Linked DNA regions of Homo sapiens: region 2 is linked to region 1. Evidence: fine-mapped expression QTL. Tissue or cell type: lymphoblastoid cells. Region 1 holds a variant in brackets; the other region holds the start of a gene. All regions are shown on one strand. Distances are between the middles of the regions.

Evidence for each region. PIP is the estimated chance that this variant, and not a neighbour inherited with it, causes the effect.
Region 2: it holds the start of LINC01963, and the variant in region 1 is fine-mapped to the expression of LINC01963 in lymphoblastoid cells (GEUVADIS, PIP 0.95).

Annotation. Positions count from the first base shown.
Region 1 is chr2:216,142,307-216,144,806 of GRCh38, reverse strand. All of the region lies in intron 13 of XRCC5 (X-ray repair cross complementing 5), which reads right to left. Among named protein-coding and RNA genes, the nearest start is that of XRCC5, 34 kb to the right of the region's middle. RefSeq lists enhancers at 1,969-2,078, 2,249-2,368. The variant A/T (reference allele first, on the strand shown) is at 1,231.
Region 2 is chr2:216,215,851-216,218,350 of GRCh38, reverse strand. LINC01963 (long intergenic non-protein coding RNA 1963) reads right to left here and starts at 1,462. Exons shown (of 1, transcript NR_037701.1): 1 at 1-1,462.

The DNA.
Region 1 (2,500 bases):
TCTTACTCACTTGTCTTTCTGCCTCAATGAGGAGGACTCTCAAATCTGTGTTTAGACCTGACTTGTCTTCTAGGCTCTGCAACCCTGTTTGTAACTTCCCAATGAGTGTCTGTACCAGGATATCCAATAGATTTTCTCAAATTTAACACTTGTGAAAATAAATGAATTATCTTTTCCACCTGCTCATTCTGTATTCCTTATCATATTGAATGGTGACATCATCTTTTCAGTCACCCAAGCTAGGATCCTGTTATCTTCAAGTCCTCTTTATTTTCCATCAATCACTCAAGTTCTATCTATACCTTCTAAATGCCTTAAGAATTGATTCTCGTCTCCACTCTCTCCATCACTGCTTTAACTCTTAAGCCTTCAAGTGGGCCACTGAAAATTCTTTAATTACCCACTGCTGTAAAATCCAAATGACTGAGTATGGCATACAAGGTATTCACAACCTACTTACTACTTACCTTCTCTGTCACGTTTTCCATCATTTCCCCATACAGAACTTATTCTGCAGCCAAAGGGATCCACATCCTGGCTCTTCATATTTTCATGCTTTTCCATGTTATTTATTTTGCATGGCATGCCCTCCTTACCACATGCACCGCCTTTGTTCTTTTAGAACTCTGTCCAAATGCTAATTCCTCAGCAAAGCCTTCCCTAAGTCACCCACTTGCAAAAATCTTTTTCTTCTTATTCTCATGGTGTTTTCCCACCACTGTTTTAACAACTGGTTTTTTCTCTCTCTACTTTTCTCATTCTTCTAGAGGGGTCCATAAAAGAAGTAAGCTTGGCCGGGTGCAGTGGCTCACGCCTGCAATCCCAGCACTTTGGGGAGGCCGAGGCGGGCGGATCACAAGGTCAGGAGATCGAGACTATCCTGGCTAACACAGCGAAACCCCGTCTCTACTAAAAATACAAAAAAAAAAAAAATTAGCCGGGCGTGGTGGCGGGCATCTGTAGTCCCAGCTACTCGGGAGGCTGAGGCAGGAGAATGGTGTGAACCAGGAGACAGAGCTCACAGTGAGCCAAGATCACGCCACTGCACTCCAGCCTGGGTGACAGAGTGAGACTCCGTCTCAAAATAAAAATAAAAAAAAAAAAAGCAGCTTATAGTATCTTTCGCACGTGGTTCATTGTTAGTACTCAATAAATAAGTTTTTTTTAAGTTTATGTATCCTAGTGAAGATACTTCTTTATATAGATAAGCCACATTAAAAACTCTCCCCC[A/T]CAAAACAAACTAATAAAAATCAAAGCCCGTGCTTGCAGCAGCTTTGGAATATAAAAATGCCTGCATTTATGGCTTGTATCTGTTTGTTATTCCAATAAGCATTTATTAAAGATAAATACAACCTACTGTAGATAAGTGTGCAAAATAGTATTAATAGAAGTTTCTCTTTTTCTCCACAGTGAACCATTTTGGTAAGCTTTGAACTGGTCTGCTCCTACCTTTCCTACAAATGGCACAAGGCTTTAGGTCTTCAAGTACATTTGCCAAAAAAACACCAAAGGATTTTTATATCTGTAATTTATACTTCATTACACTTAGCATGCTAGAGTACAGATGGTCCCTGGTTTATGATGGTTCAATTTACAATTTTTCCACTTTACAACAGTGTGAAAGCGATACTCATTCAGTAGAACTCAGTAGGACACTTACAATGCTGGGCAGTGATATCAAGCTGCAGCTCCCAAGGGTAGACAACCTTTACAGTGCATGATATTGTCAGATGATTCTGCCCAACTGTAGGCTAATGTGAAGTGTTTTGAGCACATTTAAAGTAGGTGAGGCTAAGCTATGATGATTGGTAGGTTAGGTGTAGTAAATGCATTTTCAACTTATATTCTCAACTTAGATGGGTTTATAGGCGTGTATCCCCATCATAAACTGAGGGGCATGAGTATTCAGAGTCAAGTCTTCACATGTTAAGCTTCACATCTCTAATTTTAGAACAAAAGATTTTTTTCACTACTTAAAAGAATTACAAGCATCAAAAAAACAGGCAGTTTCTTTCAAGTAGAGGATCCCTCAAATCACAAGCCCCAATATGGACTTAAGTTAGTTACAGATGTTTCATGAAGTGAGTCATAAGGGAGAATCTGTGGTCTCTGCAGCACATGCCCTGTTACCCCCAACCTGCAGAAAAGGGCCCTCTACTCCTCTGTGAGCAACAGCTTGCCTTAAAAAGCTGCTTATATAATTTTTTTTTCAGTTTTGTGGGGGTCAGAGAAGCCTATGTCCTGCTGTCATCAACTGAATCCAGGACTGGAATATTCCTTTCTCCTTCAACCTTGGTCTAGCCCTCCCCTTCCTCAGCATAAGTCAGCTCTCTTGTCAACTTCCCCAATTTACCTTAATCCAATCTCTGCCTTCCAATTCCTTTGGACTCAGATTCAGAAGATTTTTTATATTTTCTGTATTTTAATTATTCTTTAATAATTTCACAATATAACCTTTTTATCTGACCCCTATGCTCCCTTTAATTATGAAATTTTTGAG
Region 2 (2,500 bases), 74 kb before region 1:
TCCACATAGGGCTGGGGGTATCCACTCATAAAAAGCAGGGCAGGACATTTTAAAGCCAGACAGGGGCTGTGTAGAGAAGGAAGAAAAATAGAATTGCAGGGACTGATAATGGAAGTATTTACTGTACACTTACTATACACCAAACATTTTATGTGGTTCATGCTCATTTAATCCTGACAGCCCTGAAAGTTAGGTTAACATAAACCCTATTTGACAGGTGCAGAAACTGAGACTGAGAATAGTCAAGCAACTTGGCTGAGGTCACAAAGCCAGGATATAGTGGCAGGTTTTGAAAGAGGCAGTTTGATTCCAGGCTCGGCTCTGATAATATTAAGCGGGCATTAAAAAGCAGGCTTCTGGGAGATGGAAAAGGAGTGGTGGAATCATCAAATGGCATGGATGTTGTACATAACTGAAGCCCTGGATTACAGAATTAAAATTCCATGTCTGTACTCCTCCCTCCCGCTCCAGCTCCACAGTTGGCGTGGGCCAGCCCAAGGCTACTGGTGGTGGGAGGAATAGCTTCATGTCCTCAAAGCACTCACCTAAATTCTGGTGTAGGGAGAGCTTAAAGTCTGTGGAAGAGACCCAGCATGCCTTTCCAAGTAGGTCCTGGGTTAGAAAGATCTGGGAGGCCTGTGTGTTAAAAGAGATGGCAGGAAATGATTCAGCTCTATATCTGTAAAATCTCTGACAATGACAGGATGTGAGGAATGACAGGAGGATCAGGAGGGCTGGGCGGGGGTGACTGAAATGTACTGACCCTGGCTGCAAACTAAAAATAAAATCCTAAGTCCCCTCCACCAACTGAATAGAAACGCTCTTGGCAAAGAGGACCCCAGAAAAACCTTAGAAACTGAGTTCCCAGCCATGACAGGACAAGAGGTCAGACACACCTCATTATACTCCCCTCCCTTTTATGGTTTAGACACAACCAACCAGCATTAATGTCAAAATAGAGGTCATAAGACTGACCAAACACACTCTTTGTGGCAACAAGATACCAAATTACAAACAGGACCTAAGGCCATGCCAAACAAGGGTTAAGTCATGCAGCCCTACACTTAAAAGAATAAACTATGTTCTAACTGCCACAAGTTTTCCTTTTCTCTAGCAGCTAAATAAGCACTGGCCTCTAAATAAACAATACTAAAACACTTGCAGCTCCACCAGATGCTGACTAACTGAACTCCACCAGCCATAACTACAGCTTTGATTGGACAAGAGTGATTTCGGTAATTTTCTCCTGGTAAGGAGCCCACCGACCATGACTGGTTCTAGCGGGTTTACAGAGATTGCATACTTGAGTGCCTTCATGTCCTGAATAGACCTTTTGATGTATAGGGCCTGATTGCAATATTTAAATATTAAGTCTCCACCCCAAGGTGAACATGTGTCATATGTAAGATGCATGTTTAATATGCATGCATCAGGACCACTTTCATTAATATTCATAGCTCCTCCTGTAACCTGTTGAATATGTGTTAAGCCAACCCATTCAGCATAAAAGCATAAAACTCCTACCCCAACCCCTCCTCCTTGGAGGTGCCTGTCTCTGGGCTTCTGCTGGAGGAGGCTGTGCTTCCTGGCCTGCAGGATGGCCACCTGGCAGGCTGTCACCCTTAAGAAATAGTGTCTCCATTTTTCTAAATTTGTATCTTATGATTTTTTTTTTAAAGTTAACGTATCTGGCAAAGATGGGATTCTGAAGCAGCCCCTGAATTCCTTTTCCTGTGTCACCCAGGACACCAGGTACAGCCAAGGTCCCTTTGAAAAAGTCCAGTTGTTCCTGACTATGCTGGGAAAGGATCTGGGTAAGTGCTATCAAAATCCAAGATCTCCCACTTTTAGGTTGCAGACTTGATTTCTTCTTTTAGGCCTCCTCCATCTGTGGAACTCCGGAGGAGACCCTCCTGCTGGCCTTGGGTTTGGGAGGGCATTCCTAGTTCTTCTCAGTCCTTTCTGTTCTCCTCCCTGGACCCCGGAGGGAACATCTCTCCTAGCCTTGGGTTTGGAGGAGGCCTTCCTGATTCCCTCCATCCAAGGGCCCTGGAGAAAATGCATTTGTGGGCTCCGGGCTTATGGAGAGGCATTCAGGTTGGATTCAACTGGTTCATAAGGTTTGTGGGGATGCTCACACTAAGGGCACTGGAAGAGATATCTTCATAAAGTCAGTGCAATAGGTAACTTACCCACTAGGGGCAGGAACTCCTGTAGAAGTTCAAAGGCATGCCAGGTTTTCCAGCACTTCAGCTAGCTGCATATTGTGGCCTGTTCTTGTGCACATTTTAAAACTGAACGGGCAAATTACAGCAAGGAAAATTCAGAGCTCAAATGCCCAACCTGCAACTATACAATTAAAATGTAGAGTTTTCTAAAGCTATCTCTTTTTTGTTTTCGGCCTGCTTTGAATTTGCTGTTATTAAGCTACTGCTGTTAAGATAAAACTCATTGTTTATGATACTACTAATTCAAGGCTACTTGGAGCTTTCTTTACAGT